Linked DNA regions of Homo sapiens. The protein of the gene in region 2 purifies or fractionates together with the protein of the main gene of each other region. This does not show direct contact. Each region holds a gene or a part of one and is shown on either strand. Other genes may lie near its edges.

Region 1 (7,027 bases), on a different chromosome or scaffold from region 2:
AATTTATTTTTTTGTGTCTGGTGCAAGGTAGGAGTCATATTTTTTTCTCCCACAGGAATGTCCAATTGCTTCAGCACTATTTAGGACTTTTGTCACAGATAGGTAACTGTATATTCATAGGGTTTAATTTTGGACTTTATGTGGTTTTATTGGTCTATTTGTCTTTAGTTTTATTATTTTTTAAAATTTGAGACAGGTTCTCCCTCTGTTGACCAGGCTGTCGTGCAGTGGCGCAATCATGGCTCACTGCAGCCTTGACTTCCAAGGCTCAGGCGATCCTCCCACCTCAGCTTCCCAAGTAGCTGGGACTACAGGCTTGAATCATACAGGTGTGCACTAACAGACCCAGCTAATCTTTTAATTTTTTGTAGAGGTGAGGTCTCACCGTGTTGCCCAGACCTGTCTCCTGGGCTCAAGTGATCCTCCTGCTCTTTGGCTTTACTTTTAATTAATTAGATATTCTAGAATTTGGGTTGAGAAAGGGACACATTGTAAAACAGTCCAGAGCTTCGTCTACTCCCCTGAAAACGGTTTTGGTACCGATTATGGAGTTCTTTAGTTCTGACTCTCCTCACCTGTTTCCCTCAACCCAGTACCCCTGGCTGGTTGAGTCTACTCCATCTTCTACAGAACCAGCGCAGACAGTGACCAGGCTCAGGGTTCCCAGTCTTTGGCATTTCTTTCTCAAATGATTTATATTTAGAGTGAATGTAAATACTTTTTCTCTAAGACCTGTTGCCAATTTTTAAAATTATTCAATTCTTTCTGATTTTGCTACATAATGCTATAATTGCTTAACTTTTTTATCATAATAAGATATATATATATAACATGCAATTTACCATATCTAAATATACAGTTCAGTGGCGTTAAATACATTCACATTGTTGTGCAACCACCACCACTATCCATTTCCAGATCTTTTTCATCAACTGAAACTTGATACCCATGAAACAGTAACTCTCCATTCTTCACTCTCTCCAGCTGCTGGTTCTGCCTATATGAATCTGACTATTCCCAGTTGAACCATACAATATTTGTCCTTTTCTATCTGGCTTATTTCACTTAGCATAATGCCTTCAAAGTTCACCTGTGTTGTAGCATGTGTCAAAATTTCTTTTTCTTTCTTTTTTTTTTTTGAGACAGAGTCTTTCTCTGTTGCCCAGGCTAGAGTGCAGTGGCGTGATCTCGGCTCATTGCAACCTCTCCCTCCCTGGTTCAAGCAATTCTCCTGCCTCAGCCTCCCGAGTAGCTGGGATTACAGGCATGCGCCACCGCACTTGGCTAATTTTTGTATTTTTAGTAGAGATGGGTTTCACCATGTTGGCCAGGCTGGTCTTGAACTCCTGACCCCAGGTGATCCACCTGCCTCAGCCTCCCAAAGTGCTGGGATTACAGGTGTGAGCCACTGTGCCTGGCCTCATTTTTTAATTTTTTGTAGAGATGGGGTTTTTGCTATGTTGCCCAGGCTGTTCTTGAACTCCTGGCCTCAAGTGATGCACCCACCCTGGCCTCCCAAAGTGCTGGGATTACAGGCGGGAGCCAACGTGCCTGGCCCAGAATTTGTTCAGGCTGAATAATATTTTCTTTTTGTGTATACTGTATTTTGCTTACCCATTCATTCATCAATTGACCTGAGTTGTTTCTGTTTTTGGCTATTGTGAATAATGCTGCTGTGATCATGGGTATGCAAATATCTATTAGAGTCCCTGCTTTCAATTCAGAAGTAGAATTGCTGGATCATATGATAATTCTATGTTTAATTTTTTTTTTTTTTTTTTTTGAGACAGAGTCTCGCTGTGTTTCCCAGGCTGGAGTGCAGTGACTCAATCTCGGCTCACTGCAAGCTCCGCCCCCCCGGTTCATGCCATTCTCCTGCCTCAGCCTCCCGAGTAGCTGGGACTACAGGCACCCGCCACCACGCCCAGCTAACTTTTTGTATTTTTAGTAGAGACGGGGTTTCACCATGTTAGCCAGGAAGGTCTTGATCTCCTGACCTCGTGATTCGCCCGCCTCAGCCTCCCAAAGTGCTGGGATTACAGGCGTGAGCCACCACGCCCGGCCTCTATGTTTAATTTTTTTGAGGAACTGCCATACCATTTTCCACAGAGGCTGTACCATTTTATATTCCCACTAGCAAGGAGCCAGAGTTTCTGGTTCTTCCGCATCTTCACCAACACACATTGTTTTCTGTTTTTCTTCTTTTTTTTAAAATGGATGTGAAATGGTATCTGATGCTGGATTTGATTTGCATTTCCCTAATTATAAGTGAAGTTCAGCATTGTTTCATGTGCTTATTGACTATATGGACATCTTCTTTGGAGAAATATCTGTTCTTTGCCTGTTTTTGAATTGAGTTGCTTGATTTTTGTTGTTTAGTTTTAGGAGTTCTTTATATATTCTGAATATTAACCCCTTATCAGACATGTGATTTGCAAACACTTCTCGCCCATTCTGTAGGGTTGCCTTTTTACTCTATTGCTAGTGTCCTTTGATGCACAAAAGTTTTTAATTTTGTAGTCCAATTGATCTATTTTTTCATTTGTTGCCTGTGTTTTTTTGTGTCATATCCAAGAATTCATCACCAACTGGCATCATCACCAACTGGCATCATGAAGGTTTTCCTCTAAGAGTTGTATAGTTTTAGCTCTTAGGTTTAGGTCTGATCCATTTTGAATTAATTTTTTTGTACAATATAGTGTTTAACTTTTTTTTTTTTTTTTTTTTTTGAGATGGAGTCTCACTCTGTCGCCAGGTTGGAGTGCAGTGGCACAATCTCAAGGCTCACTGCAACCTCCGCCTCCCGGGTTCAGGCAATTCTCCTGCCTCAGCCTCCCGAGTAGCTGGGACTACAGGCGAGCGTCACCACACCCAGCTAATTTCTGTACTTTTAGTAGAGACGGGGTTTCACCATGTTGGCCAGAATGGTCTCAATCTCTTGACCTCGTGATCTGCCGCCTCGGCCTCCCAAAGTGCTGGGATTACAGGCGTGAGCCACCGCGCCCAGCCTAGTGTTTAACTTTTAAATACTCATGTAATAATTTTGTCTTTTGTATTATGAATATCTCATAGTTCTCTTGTCAGTTGCTTTAGTGATCATATTTGACTTTGGCTATTAGTATCAGGTAGTAATGATTGATTTCCTTTCTTTTGAGAGCTAGCTATGAAATCCTAAGGCTGCCAGCTAACTGAGTATACCCTCTCTTGGCTAAGGGGACCCCAGGAAACCTTAAAAACTGAATTCCCAACCAGAATGGGATGGGACATCTGACACGCCTCAGTATACCCCCTCCCTTTTGAGGTTTAAACACAGCTGACCAGCATTAATGTTAAAATAGAGATCTGAAGACTGAGAGAACAGACTCTTTGTGGCAATAAAATACCCAACTGTGAACAAAATGTAGGGCCATGCCAGGCAAGGGTTAAGTAAAGCATCCCCTTAAAGAATAAACTGGTTCTAACTGCCTCAAGGTGTTTCTTTTTTTCTAGCGGCTAAACAAGCACTGGCCTCCAGATAAGCAATATTAAGATAACTGCAGCTCACTCACTGCCAGACCCTAAGTGATCCCCACTCTCCTGTTCCACAAGCCATAACTATAGCTTTGATTGGACAAGAGACTGATTTCAGTAACTTTCTCCTGATAAGAGCACTGAGCATGAACTGGTTCTGGCCAGTTTACAGAGGCTGTGCACTTCAGTGCCTTCATGTCCCTGCTTCGCCATCTGACTACAGGGCCTCATTGTAATCCTTTTAGATGTTAAGTCTCCACCCACAAGTGAATATGGATAAGTATGTAACATACATGTTTATTCAGCCTGCATGTGCATGACCTCCCCCACTTTGTGAATATTCATAGCTCCTCCTATAACCTGTTAAATATATAAACTTGGCCAACCCGTTCAGCATAAATCCCTGTTCTATCCTCCCTTGAAGGTCTGTTTCTGTGCTCTGCGGGAGGATGCTTCCCAGCTATCAGGATTGCCACCTTGTAGGCTGTGACTCTTTACAAAATTATTTTTGAGGCAGAGTGTGGTTCCGTCACTCAGGCTGGAATGCTGTGGCACAAACACGGCTTACTGTAGCCTCTATCTCCCAGGCTCAAGAGATCTTCCTACTTGAAGGAAGTCTTTTTTTTTTTTTTTTTCTTTTTTTGAGGCAGAGTCTCACTCTGTCACCCAGGCTGGAGTGCAGTGGCACTATCTCAGCTCACTGCAACCTCTACCTCCTGGGTTCAAGCAATTCTTGTGCCTCAGCCTCTTGAGTAGCTGGGATTACAGGTGCCACCACCATGCCTGGCTAATTTTATTTATTTATTTATGATATGGAGTCTCTGTCACCCAGCCTGGAGTGCAGTGGCACAATCTCGGCTCACGATAACCTCTGCTTCCCGGGTTCAAGTGATTCTCCTGCCTCAGCCTCCCAGTAGCTGGGATTATAGGTGCCTGCCACCATGCCCGGCTAATGTTTTTGAATTTTTAGTAGAGGCAGGGTTTTACCATGTTGGCCAGGCTAGTCTCAAACTCCTGACCTCAAGTGATCCTCCTGCCTTGGCCTCCCAAAGTGCTGGGATTACAGGTGTGAGTCAATGCGTCTGGCCATTTTTGTATGGACGGGTTATTTCCGTGTTACCCAGACTGGTCTTGAACTCTCCTGGCCTCAAGTAATCCTCCTGCCTCAGCTTCCCAAAGTGCTAGAATTAGAGGTGTGAGCCACCATGCCTGGCCTGGCTGCGCAATCTAAATTCTTCCTTATCCTGGGTATGGCTTAAGCTCCCCTCTTGGCTAGAATATTTTTGGAACCAAGTCTGGGGTTGACTGGGACTTTTTTTTTTTTTTCTTTTACACGGAGTCTCGCTCTGTCACCGAGGCTGGAATGCAGTGGAGCGATCCTGGCTCACTGCAACCTCCGCCTTCCAGATTCCAGTGATTATCCTGCCTCAGCCTCCCAAGTAGCTGGGATTACAGGCGCCTGCCACCATGCCTGGCTAATTTTTGTATTTTTAGTAGAGATGGGGTTTTGCCATGTTGGCCAAGCTGGTCTTGAACTCCTGACCTCAGGTGATCCGCCCCTGCCTCGGCCTCGCAAAGTGCTGGGATTACAGGCATGAGCCACCGTGCCCAGCCAGACTGGGACTTACACAACAGAGATTTTAGAACCTTCCCATTTAGTTGGCTCCTTTTAGGCCAAATGGGAGGTGGGGAGATAATGGGGATAGAAGTATCCTTCATCTACTGCCTCTCTAGATGAGTTTACCTGCTGTTTTCTACTGGTGTCTTGCCCTCAACTCTATGGCTTACCCTTTATGCAGGAGATAAAAAACTTTAGTCCTTCCCACTTGGGAATAGTGGTTGGGCAGAAGGTGGGAACCAATCACCAATCTTGTATGTAAGTTCAGAATGCAGTTATCTTGGAGTCTGTAGTCTTCTGACCTTTGTCATTGCCCTCCAGTGAAAGACCTCCAAGAGCACACCTGTAGTTGGACAAATTGGGCTTATTGCATATTTCAGTGAGTTCCATGGGGAACTGTGGGGTGTTTCAGTAACTTTTCAAATGGGATTTGGGCTTCTACTAGGTAGTTTGGGAAGGGTTTAAGGAAGTGAGGCTTTGATCTGTATGGGGTGCTGTTAGGAAGCTGGAAAAATTCTGTAACTGGATAGCTTAAGAAATCTTTTCTAGAAGGAAAGAAGACTGGAATAAAGCTAAAGCTGTAACTGGTAAAGAAGCAACAGTCATTCCTGTTAGCCAGGATAGAGAGTTGGTCATTTCTGTGATTTGGACAATGTTCATGTTTTTTTTTTTGCTTGTGTTCAGGAGTGATTACAGAGTGGTCTTGTTTAGTCTTTATCCATCATGGTCTTGTCTGATATTGATGTTCTCTGAAATTGTTGATGTTCAGCAGAAGAGTCAGTCATCAAGGCCTAGGTGTGTGCCTTGCTCTGAGTTGTTAGCCAGTTTACAGCAACACCAAGGCCCAGCTGTGATATTACCAGGCCAGCTCCCAGATGTCAGGGGCTGCATTTCTTTTTCTCACGTGGTTGTAAAGTCTTCTAGTGGAATGATGTATTAGAAACAAATCCAATAGCCAACATAAGTTGAAGTGATTTTCTAACATAGAAGAGCAAAAAGGAATGGGATAGAGGTATAGAGGTTTCATTTGTATTTGACTTTTCTAAACTGGGTTAAATCAGCTTCCCCTCTGCGGTAGGCAGCATAATGGCCCCTGAAGTTGGTAATCCATGTGGTAATCCCTGGAGCCTGTGGTGTGTTACTTTACATGGGTAAAGGGATTTTGCAGATGTGAGTATGTTAAAGGAGAATTACCCTGAATTATCCAGGTGGGCTCTATGTGGTCACAGGGTCCTTATAGGAGAGGCAGGAGGGTCAGAGTCAGAGGAGATGTGATGACAGAGGCAGAGTTGGAGTGATGCCCTTTGAGGAAGGAGGAGGGACCATGAGCCAAGGAGTGTGGGCGGCCTCCAGAAGCTAGAAACGTCAAGGAAATGAATTCTTTCCTAGAGTCTCCAGAAGGAAGCAACCTTGCTCACGCCTTGATTTTAGCCCAGTGAAACTCAATAAATTTGTGTTGTTTTAAGTCACAAAGTTTGTGTAATTTGGTTACAGCAGCCATAGGAGATTCCTACTCCTTCATCAGGAGGCTTTGACTTTCACTGCTGTCCCTGTATATCTTACCACTCCATAGTTGTGTACTTGAGGTTAAAGGAAACTGGGACATTCTAATTACATTTGAGATAATTTTTCATGTCTTCCTATTCTGTCCTCCTTTTTTTTTTCTGAGATGGAGTCTTGCTCTGTTGCCCAGGCTGGAGTGCAGTGACATGATCTTGGCTCACTGCAGCCTCCGCCTCCCGAGTTCAAGCAATTCTCCTGCCTCAGCCTCCCAAGTAGCTGGGATTACAGGTGTGCACCACCACACCTGGCTAATTTTTGTATTTTCAGTAGAGACAGGTTTCACCTGTTGGCCAGGGTGGTCTTGAACTCCAGACCTCAGGTGATCTGCCTGCCTTG
Region 2 (7,162 bases):
TAATTGCTAATTAATTACTCCCACACTCATCTTCAATGTCCATATTAACCATACAACCTTTTAACTAAATGCCACTGCAGAGATATCAACCAATTAGAGAACTATTGTTCAAAGCACAATACAGAATCACTGCAGTTGATTCAGGGAGTTCAAACTGGGAATTCAAATCAAGTCTTACCATAACTCTGATAAAGAGGTGAGGATTTGCTCATACCATAATAATTAAAGTAAACCTCTTACTTCATTAAGAACAGGCCTATTTGGGGAGAGTGAAATAGAAAGTGGGAAATTATCTAATGTCTTGGGCCAAAATTATTCACCTGAGACTATTTTTCCTTTGAAGCATTAAAATAATTGTCTTACACTTCACTTTTATATTATCAACTTAGGCAAACTTTAGTATTTCATTGTTTTTAGCCTCTCTATATGGTCTTTGTGTCTAAAATTAGTATTTTCAATACTATAGTTATGACTTAGCTTATCCCACACTGACATGACTAAACCCAAATCTTCCCTTACTGAAGATTGAGTATATCTGCATCACATATTTCACCCCATGAACCCCCGCACTGTTTTTCAAAAGGGCCGAATGATTATTAAAAGTGCAAACACTCCTGACATCTCATTCAAATTTCCACAATCCTCTACTAAGACACTGATTCTTGCAATGAGTTAGGAGTCAGTTTGGCTTTGTGGATCTGGTAGAAGCTCACCAGATTTGAGTGGGAGAGTGCCCTTTCCTTCCTTGTACCCATTTCCCCCATCCTGAACCAACATGTTTTTAGGCCCTGGATCTTTAGAAGTTTAGTCATAACTAAGGCCAACGTGAAACCATGCGTCATCCCAACTTACCATTTGCAGAAAGCTTCCATCTCCCGTTGTTCCAGCCTTCTTTTTGCAGGCCCAAACTGTCATTGCAGCTGTGGTCCCCTGAGCACCAGTCAAGGGCAGCAGCTCGGCTCTAGAAAGAGAGATGACATAAATCTAGGGAAAAGCTACTGAAGGATGAAGATATTTCCCAAACTAACATTAGCGAGAGGGTACTTAGGGCATACTGGTACTCGAGTTTGCTCCTGCCCGCCCATCTTCTGCAAAAGCTCTAGTAATTTAACCTGAAACCACAGACCCGCCTCTCCGTCCTTTTTCCTGTTTCCCTACACTATGCAAACAGTACCTCTTTTAGCTGGCCCTCCATGCCATCACCCAAAAGGTCACGTACCGGCCAACCCTAAGGCATCTTCCAAATGACTCTCACTGTAACGTTCACCATCCGCTGTCCCAGATTCGAAACCTACCCTGCACGGCAATCCGCAAGCACTAACCGTGGTTGGTGGCTAGAATATGAGTAAGGATCACCGGGAGGAAGGGATTCCTCCCTCCAAATGGACGACTGAATCTTCTCTCCCCCACGCCCCACCCCAGCACCACCAGACGAACCCCATTTACCATCTCTCAAAGCGCAAAAATATTTAAAGCAATATTTAAAATACTTTAAGTGCGCCCCGTTTCCTCCTGCCACCCGTCCCAAAGCCCACACAGTCTTTCTCAAAAATGTGGATATTCAGGTTAACCTGCGATTTTGTTCGAAAGTGGCTAAACTGCATTATCCGAATAATTTACTTTTCCACTCCTTGGGTATAACTAAAATGCAGTTGGACAGAAAAGAGCTTGCAGTTGTCCAAAGTCATTCCGGCTCCAAAGGGCGAATTCTCTTTTCGCCATCTCTCCCAGCCCTGGAACAGCTTAGGGTCCCTCTCGAAGAGCACAGCGCCAGCCCAGACCCCATACACCCACCGTCCCTGGCACCCGAACGCGCTGCGAGCCCCGGGCCTCCCACAGGAGCGGAGACGCGGGTCCCTGCGCCTCACGCCGGAACGGACCCGTCAGAGCCGCCGAGCCCCGCACCTGGAAGCTGGGAGGCCGCGAGGACGGAGAATCGAGGCGGAGACCCAGCCCAGCGCCCGCGCAGCTCGGTGCCCTCCCGCCAGTGCCCGCACTCGGGTCACACCGCTTGCTCTCGGGAGAAGCCCCAAGGCTCGCGGTGCACCGAGAGGCGCCCGGGCTGGAGCGCCCCGGCCGTGTTGGCCACGGAGTTCTTCAGCTGCTTGATGACCACGAAGAGCAGGAGGAAAAGTAAGAAGAGCAGGAAGAAGAAGAGCGCCAGGTAGAGCAGCAAGTTGAGTTCCCACTCCATGCTGGAGGCGCCGGCGCTCGCTGGCCCTGCGCGCTCGGCGCGGGCTGCAGCTGGAGGGCGAGCGCGCCGCCCGCACACCCACCTCCCGCACTCCCGCCCCTCGCGAGGGCGTCCCGCTATGGGCGCCGACTCCGGGGTCCGTGCTTTGCCTCCCCCGGCTCCGAGGAAACGCGCCAAGGAGCTGAGGAAATCCGGCGCAGACTCTCCCAGCTGGCACCAAAGCCTTCCGCTTCGCCGAGATCCTCTCAGGTGCTCTTGAGGACGCGAGCGACTTCCCTAGGAGCGAACTTCCGCGGGCACGGACGCCAGAAGAGGTAACAGCTCAGTCTTCCAGGGGAGGTCGGGACTGGTGTTTTGTAAATGATTTAAAAGTTCCACCCCCAACATCCAGTAGGGTCCCTAGCTCCGCTGCGTTCCCAATTAATTTATTTCGTTATATCCCTCCGTTCCTGCTTTCCGAAAGGACAGGGGATGTCATGGCCCAGAGACCCAAAAGAATGAAAGGTGGCAGTGAAGATGGGGTCTGAAAGGCTATGAGATGATTTCGTGCTATGAGGTGTCTGAGTGAATTCCAGTTCGAGCTGTCTTGCTCTTCAGAGTAGCAGATACATTCAGTGTTGAGTGTACTTTTCTATGGACAACAGGTCACTTGGAAACGCATTAAGAATACAATGTATTTCAGAAGTTATATAGCACAAAGATTTCAAATATTGGCCTCAAATTCAGTTTATTTGGTGAAAAGAGGAAAACAAGTTTACTCAAAGTGTTTCTTGAGTCCCTAAAGCCTTTCTGTATCTGGTTGACGTGACCCAAAGCCCATATCGCGCAGCTTTAAAAGCTGTTCAGTGTATCTATTACTGCAGAACAAATTACCCCCAAATTTAGTGGCTTCAAACAGCATAAACATTGATCATCTCTCACAGTTTCTGTGGGTCCGAAATGTGGGAGCACTGGCTGGGTGATTCTGGTGTCGGGTTACTCATGAGGCTCCGTTCAGATGTCAGCCAGGTCTGCCTTCAGCTGAATGCTTGTGTAGAGGTGGAGGATCCACTTCCAGGGTGGCTCACTCACTGCTTGCCAGGTAGGGCTGGTTGTTGGTGGGAGGCCTCAGTTCCCTTCCATGGGTGCTTCCAATACAGCTGCGGGATTCCCCCAGAACAAGTGATGAAAGAAAACAAAGCAGAGGCTGCAGTGCTCTTTACCGCCAGCTTCAGAAGTCACGTGCCATCAGATCTGTAATATCCTACTGGTCACACAGGTCAGCCCTATTCAGGGTAGGAGTCCAAGGACACGAACGCCAAGGAGTAAGGATCACTGGGGCTCATCTTAGAGTCGGCTATGACAGCTGTTAATACAGCCAGCTATCATTGCCCATTTGTAGGCCTAACTTTATTTTATTCTTTATTTGTGAAGATGCAGAATTGCCTCCTGGACTGAATTCTGGGGATGAGGGCTGACAACATCCCAGATTGTAATAAGTGGCTGCTCCAGGGATGACAGGGGTTCAAAGAGACAGGGTGGTATGAAAACAGTCTGTGAACTGCAAGTCTCATGGACCCGATTCTAGTGTCAGCTCTGTCAGTGGTCACTTTTGCTCAGTGACTCTCAGTCCCCTCATCTGTAACATGCCTTGCTTATCTTTCCCTTGGATTTGTTGTGAGGCTCAAAAATGAGAAAATGTTAAATAAAAATGTGTTTTGCTATATAAATGTCAGATACTGTTATTATTCTATTACGAAGGGCCCCCAATGCTACAAGCTATTGTACAAAATTTCCAGGCCCTAGGCCTCTCCATCAAGCATCTTAGTGCATAAGTGAGAAGAATCTTTCTTTCATTTTCTCTTTGTCTCTCTCTCAATAACATTATATTGATCCACTTCATAGGCAGTGGTATGCTGGAGCTGGCTCGTAATGACTCACAGGAGCTGATTGTTAAATTTTGTAAACCAATTTTTAAATTCCAGCTATTATTAAAAGTTAAATTATATAAACCTACAATTATGTTAACAACAAAGGTAATTAATACTCCAAACTCATCACTTTCTAATTATTTTATTAGGTTGGTAAAAAGGCAATCACGGTTTTTGTCATTAAAAGCAAAAACCGTGATTGCTTTTGCACCAACCTCAGTACTACATTTCACTGCTGTCTATGCACTTGAGGTTATTTACATCTGTTGTAGCTGTGTGGTGAAGATGCTGCATAGTGGTATGTTACTGCGCATCTCTTCCCAGCTGTGTTCAGTGCTGTCATGTTGGTAGCTTGAAATTAGCCATGATGAGTGGGTTTGCCTTGAGAAAATGGACAAATGCTACAAATCAGGACCAGGGAGGCAGTTGTTAAATTAACCAGCACAACACTGCTCGTGGGACTATTGAGAGAAATTTGAAGTCTTATACAAGTTTAGCAAAGATTTGTGATTTTTTTTTTTTGACTGCCCAGAATCCACACACCTCCACTCTAAGCACCACATGTTCCTACGGGTGGAATTCTCCATTTTATGTAATCTTGGCAAGAAGACAGATCCCAGTGCCTACTTTCCCTTGCCACCTCCTGTTATGGAAACCAAGGGGATCAGATATATCTTTTACCCACTCCTGATACAGTGTGGGGAGGAGGGCAGGAAGAGCTATGCCAGAAATTTAGCTAAATATCCTTGTCTCCAGTACTCTGAATCTTGGGAGTTGACAGAACAGGAGGAATGTTCGGAAGTCAGATGCATCCCCGTTGCACAGGCAATCTGAGTGCCAGAACAGTCCCAAGAGTGACCTAGCCATGGCTACTGCTACCTGCTTCGACAGCATCCTCAACTCCTGGCCCAGACTGGGCCCTCCTGCTTTCTTTCCATTCCGTAACCTTCCACTGGCTTTCCAGGAAATCTTGCTGCGAGGCAGAGTGGTTAGCGCCAGTTTTCAAAGGAGAATGCTAACCAATTAAGAAAGCATTGCTTAAGTACTTTGCACATGTTAAGCACTCTTAATTAACGAGGTGTTTGGTCGGAAAGGCATGTGATTTGGCACATTGCCATCCAGATATCCAAGGTATCTAAGGATGAAAACTGAAGCATGGAGAGGTTAAGTGACTTGCTGAAGACCACACCGCTGGCAAGTGGCAGGAGAGGGATGTGAACCCAGGAAGTCTGGCTCCAGAGCCTGCACTCCCAACCCTCATGATTGTACTGCCTCTCAGGGAAAAGTATACTTTTGTGTGCATGACCATCAAATTAATCACCATATTTTTTTCTTTTGAGCGTCAGACTAAAAAGAAACACATTTCAAGAGACATATGCCTTCTGCATCTCAGCTCCTACTTTTGAAATCTTGAAGGTCAGAACTTCAAATGAGCCAGTGTTTGCCTGCAGAATGCTGTGGGAAAAGGCCAACGGATGAAGGTTTTATGTTGCCAAGCTCAACCCATGTCAGCCTTTCTAACCATAACTATTTAGATTATCCATTTATCTGAGCAGCTTAAATGGATTTATAGGTTATAGGTGTTAACTAATAAATTCTTATATTCACTCTCCGTAGAATTTGTATTTAAAATAATATTGCTGCCACGAAAAATAACATATTACATTTAGTGGATGCTCCCAATGTTTTTCAGCCTCTGGTCATATTTATGTATCTCATAAAAGGCTCTGAACTTCAGTTTATATTGTATAAATGACTCCATATGAATAAAGCAGAATCTTTCTCTTCCTAAAGATGCTCATTAATGGAAATTCATAGAAAGAAAACCCAAGCATTTTAAAAAGCAGAAAGGATACTCACTATAGATAAGAGCATTGCTGCTTCCAGCAACTAAAAGATGCACAAATGGGTAGGTGGAGGGAGCTGTGTCACTACAATCTCATCCGGCTGCCCACAGTGTGGACCACACATACACTCCCACTAACAGCGTGCCTCGTCCCCCACTCAGAGTTAGACTTCATGCATCTTTCATCTTCTCAGTCTCCTCCCTGTGGGTCTCAAAACAACTAGATATTGCCCCGGAGCTGCCCAAGGTCTTAGCCTATGGACCTCTGTGGCATGGGCAAGATGAGGGTTCCCCTTCCCTTTCCCACCTTATTCCTCCCCACTCTCACCTCTTATAGGAAGCAGGTATTTGATCATAACAAGCATCATAGATATTTATGAGAAATGATTAATGCCAGGAACAGAAAGGTTTATGTGTCTTGTAAATGTGCTTCTATAAAGTGTCTAAACACCTAAGAAGACACCTAGAAAGGGCTGTAAAAATCTACTGTCACAATCCTACCTGGACTTACCTGTTGTGGGAAACTGGAGGATGGAAGCAGCTTCCCCAGGAGAAGGGCAGGATAAGATTGGGAGACAAGAGAAAAAGAGATTTCCGGGCACCTGTCTGAGGCTGACTCAACTTGGCCTGACATGAACCCCTCCAAAAAACAAATGTTTTGCAACATGCTCTGGACTTGAGATGTGTTGTTAACCTGGCTGGTAAGACAGGTTCTTAAGTAACAGCACACCTTCCCAGGTACTGCAGGCCATAAGAACTGCTTAGATGGGATCACCTTAAAGCACCCATGCATGTGCTGGAGATGAGGTCCATACCCCTTGGAAGCTTCCAGGCCCTAGGACACTGTCCTCGCTAGTTAGGACCTGAATCAGCCCCAATGATCTTGGTGACTCCAATGGCCCAGAAATATCCCAGCCATACTATTCACGCCTCTGTGGCACCTCATCTCCCTTGCTTCTGCCCCGTACACAAAAACACCACCATGTTCATTTCTGTGGAGGAGATACAAACTGGACCTCTTTGAAATTGCTCCTTGTTTATACTCTTTATCACCCCTACAACCCTCTAGATCAGAATTAGAAAGGCTAAGAGAATGTTTGCTGCTATAGGAGAACAGAAAAGTGAATTGTTCTGCCTGAGGGAGTTGTATAAAGTTCATCAGCTGTTACTGTAACACCCCATGACAGGATTTGCTCTTTACACCTTCACCTC

Evidence for each region.
Region 1: the proteins of SMIM43 (region 2) and LMBR1 purify together in Homo sapiens (affinity purification with mass spectrometry; 2 studies listed by BioGRID and IntAct, with this or other methods). This does not show direct contact.

What each region holds. Positions count from the first base shown.
Region 1 is NC_000007.14:156,883,166-156,890,192, reverse strand, and holds part of LMBR1 (limb region 1 protein homolog), read left to right. Parts: intron 1-7,027. UniProt on the Homo sapiens protein: Putative membrane receptor.
Region 2 is NC_000004.12:121,762,912-121,770,073, forward strand, and holds the start of SMIM43 (small integral membrane protein 43), read right to left. Parts: upstream 2,254-7,162; 5' UTR 2,195-2,253; coding exon 2,003-2,194; 3' UTR 1,906-2,002; exon of another isoform or gene 1,674-1,905; intron 962-1,673; 3' UTR 853-961; intron 1-852. UniProt on the Homo sapiens protein: Required for mesendoderm differentiation. Interacts with glucose transporters and promotes glucose uptake. Probably augments the glucose uptake capacity of glucose transporter proteins to meet the energy needs of mesendoderm differentiation.